Regions from separate parts of the Homo sapiens genome. Here region 2 is linked to region 1. The links come from fine-mapping of genetic effects on gene expression. Tissue or cell type: whole blood. Region 1 holds a variant in brackets; the other region holds the start of a gene. All regions are shown on one strand. Distances are between the middles of the regions.

Evidence for each region. PIP is the estimated chance that this variant, and not a neighbour inherited with it, causes the effect.
Region 2: it holds the start of ACE, and the variant in region 1 is fine-mapped to the expression of ACE in whole blood (TOPMed, PIP above 0.99). The same link has a PIP of 0.9 or more in blood mononuclear cells.

What each region holds. Positions count from the first base shown.
Region 1 is chr17:63,605,979-63,614,235 of GRCh38, reverse strand. TACO1 (translational activator of cytochrome c oxidase I) reads right to left here. Exons shown (of 5, transcript NM_016360.4): 3 at 7,796-7,923; 4 at 6,772-6,949; 5 at 5,871-6,434. The coding sequence ends at 6,234. It also overlaps the pseudogene FAM136DP. Among named protein-coding and RNA genes, the nearest start is that of TACO1, 9.2 kb to the right of the region's middle. RefSeq lists enhancers at 2,629-3,129, 3,130-3,630. The variant A/T (reference allele first, on the strand shown) is at 3,891.
Region 2 is chr17:63,473,557-63,481,556 of GRCh38, reverse strand. It overlaps ACE (angiotensin I converting enzyme), which reads right to left and starts at 4,496. Exons shown (of 25, transcript NM_000789.4): 1 at 4,214-4,496; 2 at 3,459-3,626; 3 at 2,457-2,550; 4 at 1,645-1,788; 5 at 1,029-1,220; 6 at 369-466. The coding sequence starts at 4,462. RefSeq lists silencers at 3,987-4,046, 4,147-4,236.

The DNA.
Region 1 (8,257 bases):
TGACAAAGACCCTGTTACACACACACACACACAAAAAAAAGAAAAGAAAAGAAAGAAAGAAAGGAAAGGAAAAGGAAAAGAAAAAGAGTATTGTGGATCTATCATCGCATTCCCTTTTGCCAGACTTATTTTCTGTGAAGAGAATGTCTCCAGAAGTGTCTTTGGGGATTCAAATAAGTCTGGGAATTGGGGGCTCTTCGAGTTTGAAAATTTATTGACTGCTATAAGTTTCAGAGAAAAAAAAGTAACTCAACCACATGGCTGAATTTCCACAGTTGGTTGGAGGCACAGCCTTTGCTGTTCCTCTTGGATTCAGCCAGGGCCTCTAGCAGAGGGGAGGTGGCTACGCACAAGAGTGCTTCTTATAACAGTCAAGACTGTGAACAGAGCCTATCACAGATACTTCTGTCCCACTAAAAGGACACTTGAAGGTAAGCCCAAGGTGGCTTCAAGACCTTGAATAATTTTATGTTGCTAAGACAATAACCAAAGATAAGGCAAAGCAAGCCAAGCCAGCACTGGACCTCATTCCTCTGACTTTAACATGCATCTGACTCCCAGACTCTCAGATGCTGTGAGACTAGCTTTTGGTTTTTTTTTAATTATGTCACCTGATAAAAGTAAAACATGGGGGCTGGGCACAGTGGCTCACACCTATAATCCCAGCACTTTGGGAGGCTGAGGCAAGAGGATCCCTAGGAGCCAGGAATTCAAAACCAGCCTTACACAGGAAGACCCCATCTCTCTCTCTCTCTTTTTTTTCTTTTTTCGGTGAGACGGAGTCTTGCTCTGTCGCCCAGGCTGGAGTGCAGTGGTGCGATCTTGGCTCACTGCAACTTCCGCCTCCTGGGTTCAAATGACTCTCCTGCCTCAGCTTCCCAAGTAGCTGGGATTACAGGCGCCCGCCACCACGCCCAGCCAATTTTTATATTTTTAGTAGAGACGGGGTTTCACCACATTGGCCAGGCTGGTCTCGAACTCCTGACCTTATGATCCACACACATCGGCCTCCCAAAGTGCTGGGATTACAGGCGTGAGCCACCGCGCCCGGCCGGGAAGACACCATCTCTTAAGAAAAGAAAAGAAAGAAAGAAAAAAGGAAAACATGATTACAGAATATAAAGCTCAGTAATAACATCACTACCCTGAGATAACCTGTTTTGATATTTTAGTACATTTCCTTCTAGTCTTTTTTAAAAAGTTCATATATATAATATGTTAAATAAATATATACATATCTATTTCAAAATTTGGACCACACTATACATGTAGTTTTGTATCTTTTTTCCCACTTAATGTTATATTCTAAACATTTTCTCTGACAAAAGATTCTTTAAAAAATAATTTTTAGTGGCAACATAATACCTTGGCATATGGATGTAACCATCTTTAATGTTTTTTTTTTGAGACGGAGTCTCGCTCTTGTGCCCCAGGCTGGAGTGCAATGGTGTGATCTCGGCTCACTGCAACCTCCACCTCCCGGGTTCAAGTGATTCTCCTGCCTCAGCCTCCTGAGTAGCTGGGACTACAGGCGCCTGCCACCATGCCTGGCTAATTTTTGTATTTTTAGTAGAGACGGGGTTTCACCATGTTGGCCAGGCTAGTCTCGAATTCCTGACCTCAGGTAATCCACCCGCCTCGGCTTCCCAAAGTGCTGGGATTACAAGCGGGAGCCACCGCACCCGGCCGTGACCATCTTTATTTGAATAGCTCAGGGTCTCTTTTCCAGATCTAGAGACAGCAGAACAAATTCAAGAAGGGTTCATTTCTGCCTTTCCTATTAACTGCAGGAGAGAGACTGCAGGGCACCACTAGGGGTCAGTGCAGAGCCATCATCACAGGAGCCTTTACTGTGCCTTACAGTAAGCATGTCTTGATGTAAGATAATTGGTTATGCAACAATCCATATTAATAAAGATTCTATATGCTACATTAGAGATCTATTCACATGACTAGCCATGTTCCCTTTAAGAGCAGACTCCCTTAGTACAGATTTCTCAGATTATAAATAAGATTCCTCCAAATTAATTTCCAAAACAGAGCTATTTTATAAACACCAAGGTCTATCAGTGTAAGACCTGTTCTTTCCTGCTTGGTATGAGATCATTTGTGCATAAAATACTTGGCCAAAGTGTTTTATAGGTTTGTTGGGAAAATCAAATAAATAACATGTAAACGTATCTTACAAATTATGAAGCCACATATAAACGTAAATTTGCTCTTTTTTAATGATAAGCAATTCAGATATTTGGGCAAGTGGCATGACCATGGATTATTTCACTGGTTTTCTTCCTCGTAGCCCTTGCTCTCCAGCTATTGACATCAGTGTGGAGTCAGTAATTCTTTTCTTAGAAGCTGAAGTTATCATTTACAGTAAATTTGGTTTTAGTTCTTTGTCATCCTTATTTACCTGAAGCTCCTTCAGGAAAATTACTCTGAGCTCAGAATTAGCTTAGATAACTTATAAATAGGTGTATAACAGGGATCAGAAAGCCACTCTAGGCCTGACATGCTTGACAGGCTCTGACGCAGGAGGTGGGAGTTCCTGGCCCTTCTAAACACAGATGTGACTATTAGGAGCAAAAGGTACCAAGGGCCCTATTTCCCACTGGCGAGGCTTCTTATTCAGCCCTCACTCTTCTTTCTGTTCACGTTTCCTCTTCAGTTCTCAGTGCCACATCATTTGGCATCAGAGATGAAAAGGATCTAGGGCTGGTTGTTCTCAGAACCAAGAAGCTTTCAAAACCAGCTTGTGGTAGCCCTTCTTGAGAGCAGCTCAGTCTTCTCATTGGTTCACTCTGACCAATCCCAGGATGCATAGGGACCCAGGCAAAGCAGGCCCTAGTAAGTCCCTTTTTTTTTTTTTGAAAGACAGAGGCTGGGCGCCATGGCTCATGCCTGTAATCCCAGCACTTTGGGAGGCCAAGATGGACGGATCACCTAAGGTCAGGAGTTCGAGACCAGCCTGGCCAACATGGCCAAACCTGGTCTCTACTAAAGATACAAAAATTAGCCGGGGTGGCACGGTGCAGGGCGGTATGGGGACGCCATGGCAGAGCTGCAGCAGCTGTGGGTGCAGGAGGTGGTGGACTCCATGGTGAAGAGTCTGGAGAGAGAGAACATCTGGAAGATGCAGGGTCTCATGTTCCGGTGCAGCACCAGCTGTTGTGAGGACAGCCAGGCCTCCATGCAGTAGGTGCACCAGTACATCAAAGCACTGCCATGTGCCTCTGGCTCAAGCCCGGGCTTTGCTCACCAGTGAGTTGGAGAAGTTCCGGCACCACCTGGCCCGGTGCGCCATGCATTGCAACAACAAAGCCAAAGATTCAATGGATACTGGGAGTAAGGAGCTTCAGGTGAAGCAGCAGCTGGACGGTTGTGTGACCAAGTGTGTGGATGACCACACGCACCTCATCCCAACTATGGCCAAGAAGATGAAGGAGGCTCTCTTATCCATTGGGAAATAACAGTCTTTGCCAGTGGCCACTGGGGCTGAGGGCAAGAATATATTTTTTATAAGGAATTGGGAATTTTAGTCTTTTAAGCAAAGTTTATGAAGAAATGAAGGATGGCCACAAGTGTAAGACATATGTCACTTGCCTCTGGACACTGGTTCTTTTATGTTTCAGTCCTAAAAAATGAAATGGAAAAAAGTGGTGCTAAATTGGGTCAGAGATATTACAGGAGAGTTTTAGAGCTTATATATCCTATGGCCAGTGCTTGTCCTGCCAGTAAGGATCTCCCCTGTAACAAGCCAGAGCCCTCCAAGGCACTAAACTCTTCTTATTACACAGGTACCAACAGGCTGGCAGGTTAGAGTTGGTGGAGTTTGAGGAGAGATATTTTCTCTTTGTTGCCAACATCCTGTTTACCAGAAGTGTCACCACACC[A/T]TTTTCCGTAAGCTGTGAAACAAAATCCATGAGGTCACCCGCTTAGAAGGGCAAAAAAGTTTTCTGGGTCTTTGTTTTCTTGGTTTTGTGTAATTTATACAAGGCGATACAAATTGATTTTAAGATGTGGAATTGGGAGGGAGACTAGTTTGGATAAGAACTTTGAAAGTTTCCTTGAGGATCCCCATTTCTGGTCATCAAGATGTAGATGTAGATTTCTTAAAATTATTACATGCTGCATCTTTCAGCCTGGAGACCATGCAAAAACATGAGAGGTGATGACATACTAATTATGGGAAGCATAATTACTGGCTGATGGGCCGAGGCTGTGTGTAGCAAAATGACAGGACAATCTTGCAGTAACACTTTCCCGGTGAAGAGAAGGGGGTTTTGATTGTGATATATACTAGTATCTAGAAATGAACAGTAAAAGAAGAGCAGTTGGCTACTTGATTATAACAGAGTTATGAAGTACTGGATTTGGAAAAACCTGGTTTTTATAGAACGGATGGAATGAAAGCCTAAACCTAGCACTGCCTACTTAGCCCCCTGAATTAACAAAGCACAATTGAGACAAACCCTGGCAACAGGAAATCCAAGGAAGAAAAAGTAAGCAACTTGGGCTAGGATGAGCTGACTCCCTTATAGCAAAGGAGAGGCAGACCCCAGTACCAAAAACCATTTTTGCCTGGGGCTTTCGCAACTTGCAGTGTTCCTGCCCCGGCATGGCACGTTATTGTTTTGATAGCAACCTCATTGTATTTTCATCAACTTACTACTTGAAATGATAATATAGCCTGTCCATTTGCTGCTTCCAGGCTGTGTTATATTTTCCCGGTGGTTTGCTTTTAAAAATAAATAAAGTTTAATTTTCTCCCCTCCCCCTCCACAAAAAAATTAGCCGGGCATGGTGGTGCCTGCTTGTAATCCCAGCTACTTGGGAGGCTGAAGGAGGAGAATCACTTGAACCTGGGAGGTGGAGGTTGCAGTGAGCCAAGATCATGCTACTGCACTCCAGCCTGGGCCACAGAGCAAGACTCTGTCTCAAAAAAAAAAGAGACAGACTCAGCCGGGCGTGGTGGCTCATGCCTGTAATCCCAGCACTTTGGGAGGCCGAGTGTGCAGACCACTTGAGCTCAGGAGCTCGACACCAACCTGGACAACATAGTGAAACCCCATCTCTACAAAAATATATATAAATTAGCTGGGCGTGGTGGCATGCACCTGTAGTTCTAGCTACTTGGGAGGCTGAGGTGGAAGGACTGCTTGAGTCCAGGAGGTCAAGGCTGCAATGAGCTGAGATTGTGCCACTGCTCTCCAGCCTGGGCAACAGAGTGAGACTCTGCCTCAAAAAAAAAAAAAAAAAAAAAAAAAAGAAGAGTTCTCACTCTGTCACCCAAGCTGGAATGCAATGGTGCAATCATAGCTCACTGTAGCCTTAGACTCCTGGGCTCAAGTGATCCTCCCGCCTCAGCCTCTCGAGTAGATGGGATTATAGGTGTGAGCCACTGCCAAGTCCCTTATCACTGGCACTTGATTTCCTACTGGGCTAGAACCTTAAGCTGTTTGGTGAAAGAAGGGCACAGAAGTCACACAAAGAGAGCAACAGATGCTTGCACAGCAGCTCACACTGCCCTGGGACAGCTCCAGTAAAGAGCAGTCCTGTGTTCAGGTCCTACCTTCTAGAGCAGGATCTAACACAGGACACCAGTTGAATAGCTTATGCTCTAGATAAGTACAGTTCTTGGTATATAGCTAGTGTTCCAGAAATATTAGTTGCATGAATGAATGACAGGTTTAGGCTGTAAGACCAGCATCAGACCATGGAGTGCCTGGATACAACTACATTTCTATGGCCAATTAAAAAAATAATCCTGGGATTGGAGTAGTAGAGCTAAGCCTAGGGACTTGAAAGTTAGTCCAGAGGATCCCAACAGCTGGACACAAACTCAGGAAGACTCAAGAGCCATACAACAGCAATGCAGCAACCAATAATCACCGTTATTATTAAGAGCAGTTTCTAGTACAGAGCGCCTCAGGGCACTTACAATCCCCACAGAGGCCAGCTACCCAACATCAGAGTCTGACCAGCTGGGTGGTCCTGCCCTGCATCCGAGAGGGTGTCGGGACACTCATCCAGATGGCTCTGAGACAGCAGCAGAGCTGACAAGGAGGCCCCACAAGTGAGATTCCTTTGGCTTCAAGGTCGCAAGTCCTGTCCTTGGGCCTCCTGGCCTGCTGAGCCTCCCACCGGCTTTACCCTCAGAGATTGCTGCAGAAGCCTGTGTGCTGGAATGGGCTGCCACATTTCTAGGAAGGAACCCGGGGGCACATGTAGCCTGGTTATTCAATGTTATCATAGACGTGAATCACATCCTCGTGGTTGCTGAGAGCCTGAATGAGATGTGCGGCCTGTTCCAGGTCGGGCTCAGCCAGCTGCACCTTTGAGTTGGGGATGAACTCTAGTGCACAGGACACAGAACACAGGCCCAGGGAGTCCAGCTTCTTCCTCACTTGGTGCAGTGAAGAGGCATCACAAATAAACTAGGGATAAAGGAAAGTCAGGAGGTGAGGAGCCAGGAGGTAATGAGACAAAGCCACACAGGACCTTGCAAAGTCCTGAATGTCAGTACTGGAATGGATCACTGGGTTTGAGCTCTTCACTGGCAGGGACATCGTTTTCAATGTTTTGACTCTTTCTTTCTCATAGTCCTCACTAGAGTCGGTCCTATTCAGTATTCACTTAATAAATGTTTGTACAATATGTGAACTGTCTCACCTATACCCTGGGGCACATGAAGGAAGAAACCAAGAGGCATGCATAAGGCATCTATCAGGGTCCTCCCGGAAGCCCACCAAACACCCATGTTTTCATGCTTACTTTAAAAACGTTCCTTTCTTCTTCATCTTCAGTTTCCTTGACATCCTCAGCTCCTGCTTCGATTGCCATCTCCAGGGCACGCTCTAGGTTCACAGCCTTCTTCTCTCTGTCCTCCACTTCAACCACAATCACCCCCTTTTTGTCAAAAGAGTGACGAGCTCCTACAGCCATCACTCCTCTGACAGGGAAGGAAACAGGCTGGCATGAGTGGATGCCTCTAGAAGCTCAGCCTCCATAAAGCTCATCATTCTATCACTGTCTCTTTCTTACCCAGTCTATGAAGTACACACAGACATGGAGCAGATCGCATCCTCAAGGAGAAAATGCAGCTGCTGCTGGGTAAGGGAACAGCCCAAGAATGTCCCCACGCTCGATTTTCTGCCCTGATTGCAGTTGGGAGGAAGCAGACTTAGCTGATAATTTCCTGTGCCATTAAGATGCCAGTCCTGGTGGAGCATTTTAAGACTTAGGCATTATATGGCTACAGATGGGGATAATAGGACAAAGATCCCCTTCTACATCCGATGAACAAGTCTTTGGGATCCTGCTAGTAGAAACTACATTAAGGGAAAGTCAATTAACTCATTAGATTCTGCTAAGGAGCAAGTGTGCTTAAAACCTGAAACATGGCCAGGCATGGTGGCTCCCAGCACTTTGGGAGGCTGAGGCAGGTGGATCACCTGAGATCAGGAGTTCGAGACCAGTCTGGCCAACATGATGAAACCCTGTCACCTCTACTAAAAATACAAAAATTAGCTGGGCATGGCTGTGGGTATCTTTAATCCCAGCTACTCAGGAGGCTGAGGCAGGAGAATCACTTGAACCCAGAAAGCAGAGGTTGCAGTGAGCCAAGATCATGCCATTGCACTCCAGCCTGGGCGACAAGAGTGAGACTCCGTCTCAAAAAACAAAAAAACAAAAAACAAAACCCTGAAACACTAGCAGAGATCAACAGTACTTGCCTTGCAGAGAATTGGAACATAAAGGCTCTGTCCCCTACCACTCCTCCCAGACGCACACTTACCCATTCTTATTCAGGATATGTCTAATGTCTGCTTGGCACTTGTGGCTACTGTTAGATAATGCCTCGATGAGCAGAGAAGAGCCACCAGGGCCTCGACCCTCATACAGCAAATAAGTGTCCTTGGATTTCTGCAATAAACAACACAAGCACATTTTCCTGTTTCCCAATTCCTTCCCACATGTCAGCCCAGAACTACAAGTATCGCAAAACTAACTCCATGGGATGGGCTCTCTAGGCTGGAGCCTGAGCTCTCAATCTTTATTTTTGTCCCCACCCTCTAACCAACTTTTGAGGTAACAGGAAGTACTACCCCTAACTTGGAAGGAGTCTGTTTCTCCGGTCCCTGAACAATCCATCAGCCATCTCTCAGCTTTGCTTCCTACCATCCCTAACCAAATGCCACATCTAGTCCCTACCCAATCCCACTCAGACTCATCCTCCTACACCCCCATCCTGTAAGAA
Region 2 (8,000 bases), 130 kb after region 1:
GGGTGTGGAGCCAGGTCAGGGGGAGCCCACTCTGGCTGGCCTGGGGACAGGGCTGGGGTCCCCATCTCGGGTCAACTCCCTGTGCATGAAAGCTTCTCTGCTCTGTGGCCACCATTCCCAGAGGCAGGGCCCTCACTCCCACAGCAGATGAGTGAAAGTGCGTTGTTGCTCTCATCCTGCCACTGTGGAGCCTGGAGGGAGGAGCTGGCACCTCACTGAGGGGGCCGACCCCAGCTCACTGCTCCTACAGACACACCAGGCTGCTGCTCAGTACCCGAAACCTTCCCGCCCCTGTGCCCATCTGTGACTCCCTTTTTTTGCGCCCCACCCCCGACCCCCACCACCCCAGGCTTGAGCCCAGAGCTTACCTGCTGCAGCATAGTACTGGTGACATCGAGGTTGGGCTTGTCTGGGAAAGGCACCACCATGTCGTAGATGTTTTCCCAGCTCTGGGCCCACATGTCTCCTAGATAAGGAAGGAAGGGGACAGCTTGGCTCCCTGCCTGGCTGTGCCTGCTTCTTCATGCATCGCTGAGTGGCACCCTGGGGCCGGCACCTGTACCCTGGGGCCCTCAAGGGCTGCAGGCCTGGCTTAGGGCCAGAAATCTCACACATCAGTCCCACCCACACTCCTCCGAGGGCCACATGTCCTGGGGCTGCAAGATGCTGCCACTGTCATTTCTGGCTGTGCCAGGCCCCAGCCACTCAATCCTGAGGCAGGGCCACAGTGCTTGTTTCCTTGGGCATGAGCTAGGCTGATGGCTCCCCCACTGGACCCAGGGCCAGAGCCTTTGGTTTGGCCCCTAGCTCTCTGACCACTAAGTCCCTCACGACCCTAAGCCTCAGGGTCCCCACCTGTAAAGTGGGAACACGAATGGTCTCCTGCATGTGAAGCAAACAGTATGATGCCCCACACATGTGAGATGTGAGGGTCACAACCCACCTTCCCTTACCCTGGACATCCCCCACCCCTACCTCGGGACCCACACTTCCGTGGGACTCATGTGGAGGCGAGGCCAGGTCCTTACCCAGCAGATGAGCAGGGATGGGTCCCCTGAGGTTGATGTATCTGTCTCCGTATCGGCGATGCAGTGCGCGGCGGACGAAGGCATGGAGGTTCAGGTAGAGGGGCTCTAGCTGTTGGTAGAGGTGTTCCAGATCGTCCTCGAAGGTGGGGGAGTTGTACCAGGAGCGCCAGTAGGCCCCCGTGTCTGTGAAGCCTGGGGGCGTGGGGGTGAGGTATGTAGCTCAGGCCAAAGGCTCGGACCTCAGCCTCTCAGCTGTAAGTCGGCTCTTCCACTGGCTCGAGGCCCGTGGATCTGCAGCTAGCTGGAAAATTGGCTTGGGGGTTGCCACTCTACAATTTCTAATTAGCTACAGCCAGCTAAACAGATCCTGGAGGTTCCCAGAGGCAAAGAGGAGCATCAGGGCCAGGAGTGACAGCAGGATGGCCACGTGGGGCAGGCCAGCAGCAAAGTCCAGGCACACTGGGTGCAGGCCGGTCCCACCTCCACTTTCTGGGAAACTCAGGGCCTGCTGGAATTGTCATACCAGCTGCTCTGCCTGACTCTGGGCTGGGACTCTGGGGAGACAGCTGAGAGAGGACACCTGGCGTGGTTCCTGGACAGGGAGAGGCCTGCTCACCGTCCTGCTTGTAGGCTTCATTGCTGAGGGCAGTGAAATCCTCGTACAGCGGTTTCAGCGGGATGCCCGCAGCGTTGTGCCAGCCCTCCCAGGCAAACAGGAGCATGGCGTAGCTTCGCGAGGAAGCCAGGATGTTGGTGAGATCTGAGACACAGGCAGGCAGGGTCGGTGAGGAGGCCTCCACGTTGAAGTCTTCAACGGCCTTCACCAGAGCCTGCACCAGTCCTTACTGCTCCCACCAGCTTCCTGAACATCACGGTGCCCCCAGAGACAGGGGCCACCTACAGGCCTGGTGGGAGGGGGCTGGGAGCTACAGAAACACCCAGGCAGGGCCCCTGCCCCAGAGACATGACCACCTAAGGTGGCTGACACCAAGGGGACACCCAAAGGCCAAAACCCAGACAGACACTTAGCGGCCTATTGGATGGAGTGCCTTCCTCGAAGCTGCTCATAAAGGGGGCTGGAGCGGGGTTTAAGGGGAAGCCACGAGGGGTCCCTGGCCTGAGGGCTCTTGGGGAACATGAGAGGACCCACGAAAGGGGAAACCAGGCAGCCAGGAGGAAGGCCTAGGGGTGATGGGAGAGGCCGAGGTACACACAGAAGTGGGGGCTGCAGCTGGAGATTCCGGAAGTCCACTTGCCAAGAGAAGCAGGGCGTGGGGGTATCTGCACCGTCCAGCCCCAGTTGGAGGGCAACACCTTTGGGTTTACCTGCTGTCTCCACAGACCCTACACAACTGCATGGTCTGGAGTGCAGCAGGGCAATGTGGGAACACTAGGGCACCGCCGAGAGGGGAGCTGCAAGGGCCGTACCTGGGTCCAGGGACCAGCAGGTGGCAGTCTTGTTGGGGAGGCAGACCTTGGCGGTGGAGTAGATCCTGCTCATGTTGCTTAGCAGGGCGTTGTACTGGGGAGTCAGAGGGGAGGAATGCTCCAGTGACCAGCCCCTGGGACATCTGCCCTCCCCTCGCTGCTAGAAGGAGGAGCCCACAGAGTGGATGTAGCTTGGACAAGGCCACTCAGTGGCACCGGGGCACTTCTGATCACTAAGTGTCACTTAGTGTGACCGGATCACTTCTGAGTCCCCTGCCAGTGGAGGCAGCCTGTGGAGTGGGGGACAGGAGTCCTGAAAGTCAGGGTCAGGGTCAAGTCCCAGCTTGGCACCACCCTGCAGTGAGGGCAGATCCCTCCCATTCTCTGGCTTTGGTGACTTCCCAGTCTTTCTCAACCTTTTCTCTCTCTCTTTTTTTTGGGGGGAGGTCTCACTCTGTCACGCAGGCTGGGGTGCAGTAGTGCAATCACAGCTCACTGTAGCCTTGACCTCCTGGGCTCAGGTGATCCTTCCCCCTCAGTTTCAAGAGTAGCTGGGACTGTAGGTGCACGCACCACCAAGCCCAGCTATTTTTTTTTTGTAGAGACGAGGTTTTGCCATGTTGGCCAGGCTGGTCTTGAACTCCTGGGCTCAAGCGATGCGCCCACCTCAGCCTCCCAAAGTGCTGGGATTACAGGCTTGAGCCACCACGCCCAGCCCTTCTCAACTCTTCCAAAGAAGCTCATAAACCAGCCTAGGGAGAAGTGTATTTGAATTTGGCTTCCTACTCCAGAATGCTTCCTTTAACAGAAAGTAACTCCCCACCCCATCTCCAAGAAAAATCAATGCTCAGAAAGCCATTCTGTGCTTACCTGGGCTTTCCCTTCTGTCAGGGCCCATGTGGATCCCAGGGTTCCTCCCTCCCTGATGGGCTGCTCTCCCCCGACCCCCACGATGGGGCACTAGGAGGCCGCCCCCGAGCTCTGCCTCAGCCCTCAGCCCACCTGCTGCCGCTTAGCCAGGGGCAGGTTGGCAGAGCCCAGGGTGCGCACAGCTCCGATGATCCTGCGCAGCTGCGGGTCCGTGAAGTTCTGCCAGATCGGTTCATACAGCTCCTTGGCCTTCTGGCCCCAGGCCTCCGCAAACTCCTGGCTGAGCAGGGCTGCTTCCTCCTATTGGGCACCAGGAGGGCAGGGAGGGTGTAGGACCCTGCTTAGATGCAGGCCATAAAGGAGAAGCCACGGTGCTGGGGGAGGGGAGGAAGGCCAAGGGCTTCCAGAGCCCGGGCCCTGGGGAGATCCCTGCGGGAGACCTTAGTTTGCGGAAGCCGCGCTTCCTCCTTCTGGAGGGAATCTGCCTCATGGGAATGGTGGAGCAGAAATTGGGACCAGAAAAGAGGCCGGGCGAGTGGAGGGTGGATGGACAGTGCAGTGCGGTGACGGTGACAGCGACAGCGTCCGGAGGTGAGAAGGCAGCTGCCCGAGAGCGCGGGGGCCCCAGAGCCAAGCCCAGCACCTTCGGCGAAGGCGGGCGCGGCCTGGGAGCAGCCACCCTCATCCATCCAACTCGTGCATGCTGGGAGCGCAGGCCGTGCGCGCAGCCCGGCGCTCGGGCCCCGCGGCTGACTGTCGGGGCGAGGGTCCGGGGTCGGGGTGGGGTTCGGGTCGGGGGCGCCAGCCTGCCCGCCCCACAAGCCGGCCGCGTGCTGTGATTGGCCGCCGCGGCCCCGCCCCGCCCCCGCCCGGGCCCGGGCGCCCACCTGGCGCCTTGCATTCTCCGCGGTGATGTTGGTGTCGTGCGCCCAGCTGGCGGCCACGCTCTGGAACAGCACCTGTTCGGCGCTGGAGTTGTAGCTCTGCGCGAAGAGCTGCGCCCCGGCCTCGTCAGCAGAAAAGTTGCCGGGCTGCAGCCCGGGGTCCAACGCCAGGGCGGGCTGCGGCGGCAGCAGCAACAGCAGCGGCAGCGGCAGCAGCAGCCCCGGCCCCCGGCGGCCCGAGGCGGCCCCCATGACGCGGTGCGCGGTGCTCGGCTCTGCCCCTTCTCCTGCGCCGCGGCCGCCCTGCGGGTTATAAAACCCGACACACCCCCGCCCCCGCCCCGCCGCGCTTCCTCCTCCGCTCCAGAGTCCCCAGCGGCGCGGGCCGAGGTTCCTGGCCCGCCCCGGGCAGGGGCGCGGGCCGGGGAGGGGCCGAGGTGCAGCCCGGGGGTGGCGGGATGGGGCTGGGTCGGGCTCCCGCAGAGGAAGCTGGAGAAAGGGCCTCCTCTCTTTAGAAGATGGGGACCCGGCAGTTTGCCGGAACACCCGAGCCTGCCCACCGTGCGGCCGCGCAGCCTCGGCCGGGGCCTGGGAGCCTAGCGGCCTCCGGCTCGATCTTCCCAGCCCGACCCCCCGGAGCCTCCCGCCTCCGGAGTGACAAGGCCGGGGCCCCAGGAGCTGTCCGCAGGCGCCGCTCGTGCGGCGGGGATGGGGCTGATCGGGCCTGGCCGGCTTCTTCACCAGGCCATGGTCGAGGGGCGGGGACGTCGCCTGCCGGGGGTAGGGGTGTGGCGGGGGGGAGAGGAGGGAGGCGGGGACCTTAGGTGTCTTGCAGGCGCCTCCGGGAGGTGCTGGAGGGGCTCAGGGCGGCCGGCACACCTGGGGCTTGGGGCTGCGAGGGAGGGGGAGCCACAGAGCGCAGGAGCTTTGGAGCGCCTGCCCTCTTTCCCCCCGAGGACACAGGCTGCCAGTCGCTCAGCAGAAAACATCACACACGATCCCAACAGAGTCCTAGAACCCGAGGCTAGCAGGCTTTGAGAGCGACACAAAGCCTCAGAGATGAGAACAACCCCCTCATTTTACAGATGAAGAAATTGCCGCTCAGGTTGAGAGGCTTGCTCCAAGTCACCTCAGGTCTCCACACTCCCCTGTGTTTTCCTGTCTCATCCACGTGTCCCTCAAAGTGACAAGTGTGGGGGAGGGAGGACAGTCTTGTCCTATTGGCGCACAGGGCGGTTGTGGAGGCCACCTCGGCACCATGGCGTCTGCTGCCAGAGGGGGGAAGCCCCTTGACCCTGGCAGAGGCCCGGCGGCGCAGTGGGAGGTGGGGCAATGGAGGAACCGTGGGGTGAGGCTGGGCGGTGGGATCAGGGAAGGAGCCAGGGACAGCTGCTCCCAAGACCCCAACCCATTAGGCTGCTGGGGGCTGTTGGGAATCACTTGGGCTTCTGGGTGAGTGGGGGATGGTGTCTGGGGCTCTGAGGGACACGTGCACCTTGCTGTGCAGCATGGAGTGTGTGCAGGAGGCTGTGACCCCGCGTTCCTGTGAGATGCACCTCCAGTGAGATCGCACTGACTTGTCAGATGACGTGTTGCAGGGGAGAGGGGGCGGTGGGGAGAGGAAGAAGGTGGCTGTCCCTAGCACTAGAGGGAGAAGGCAGGGCCTTGTTAAACACTGGCCGGCAGTGGGGCCGGGAGAGGAGAGCTGGGGTCAGGCCTGGCCCTGGCCCGCTTTGCCAGCCTCCCTCCTGACCTGCAGTTTTCCCTCACAACTCCTCCCTGCCCAGTTTGGCTTGGAGAGCCAGTGGATACCAGAGGACATGGGTGCACTTCTGGGCCGGCTACGTTGGTGGACGTTTGTGATCAGAGCAGCCCCATCGAAGGCCAGGGGCCAGGGAGGGCAAGGTGGTGGCCTGGGCTCTCCTCCCAGGAGCCACCCTGCTCTCAGGGGTCCTAACAGCTTGGCCTTCCAGGCTTTGAGGGCTGTGGGTGTCTGTGTGCAAATGAGCTGCTGTCTCCTGGGAGGAAGCAGTCTTTCTGTGGAAAGAGGCTTGGGTGGGGAAGAGATGAGAGTGGGGCTCTGTCAGCCTCTGAAGGAGGGGCCAAGGGAGGAGAGATGAGTAGAGAGGAGAAGAGCCTGAGGCCTAACCTGTATCCAGAGGCCCTCAGCCAGAGGCTGGCCTCGCCTCCAAAGAGTTCCTGAGAACCCTCTTCAGGAGGGTGGAGGGCGGGCATTGCTTCTGCTGGTTCATTCTCCCGTCTGACTCCAAGGCATTTCCACAATGTCTATAGACCCTGGGTTAGGGACTGTGTCAGCAATAAACAGCCTCCGCCTCCACTTCCGACAGGGTTGGAAGATAATGGAAGTCTTCCCCTGGACCTGGAGCAGCTGACACCAGGGCTGCTGGAGGCATCACCCTGCACCTCCCTCACTGTAACGCTTTATTAGAATGGCTTGTTAAATCCCCCAGCTTCATCACTAAATTGTATGTTACTGGAGGGCAGGGATGGCGTCTGCCTTGTTCTCTGTGGTTTTCTCAGAGTTTAGCATGGTGCCTAGCACAGGGCAAAACCTCATCGAAGGAAGGGTGCAGAGGAAAGAGGAAATGACCCACACTCGTATTCACACTCCGGGGGGTGAGCACACAGCCTTTTGCAGGAATAATATAAGAAGAGCCAGACTTCATTAATTTGGAATTTGCAATAATACAGACACTGCAACCTTGAGCCCAGTGAGTAAAAATTAAAAATATCTTCTATTTTTAGGGTCTTATTCATGAAGGAGAAGGATAAATAGAAATAAATAGCTTACATTTGTATAGTGCTTTAGTGCTAAATTCTTGTGTATAAACAATCTAATTTGGTATTTACAATAACCTTGAAAGGTAGGAAAGAGATAAGGCTGTCTGGGCAGTCAGCCACCTCCTCGGCTGCCGTCACAACAAAGGAGAAGGCTCAAATCCTGCAGGAGGATATCATTATGAATAGGCCAGTGCAGAGAGCCACAGAGACCTGACCCACGTGAGGTAACTCAGTTGGCTTGGGAATCTTTTCATCTCTCTTCCAGGAAGTACAGGTCACCAGTTACCACAGGAGAGAAAAACAGCCCTTAAAAATATGCTCAACAATGGAATAGAATTGAGAGTCCAGAAATGAACCCATACAATTATGTTCAATTGTTTTTGACAAGAACACTAGGACAATTAAATGGGAAAGAAAATATTTTTAACAAATGGTGCTGGGGCAATTGGATTTCCACATGTAAAAGAATGAAGTTGGACCCCTTTCTAATACCATATACAAAATTTGGGGCTGGGTGCAGTGGCTCATGCCTATAATCCCAGAACTTTGGGAAGCTGAGGTGGGCGGATCACTGGAGCTTAGGAGTTTGAGACCAGTCTGGGCAATATGGTGAAACCCTATCTCTACAAAAAAATTAGCTGGGCATGGTTGCGCATGTCTATAATACCAGCTACTTGGGAGGCTGAAGTGGGAGGATTGCTTGAGGCCAAGAGGTTGAGGCTGCAGTGAGCCATGATTGTGCCTCTGCACTCCAGCCTGGGTGACAGAGTAAGACCCTGTCTCAAAACAAAAAACAAAAAACAAAACAAAAGACTTAAAATAGACCTTGATGTAAGAACTAAAATCATAAAACTTTTAGAAGAAAACATAGGCAATAAATCTTTGTGACCTTGGATTAGTCAATGGTTTCTTAGATATGACACCAAAAGCATAAGTGATGAAAGAAAAAACAGATAAATTGGTCTTCATCAAAATTTAAAACTTTTGT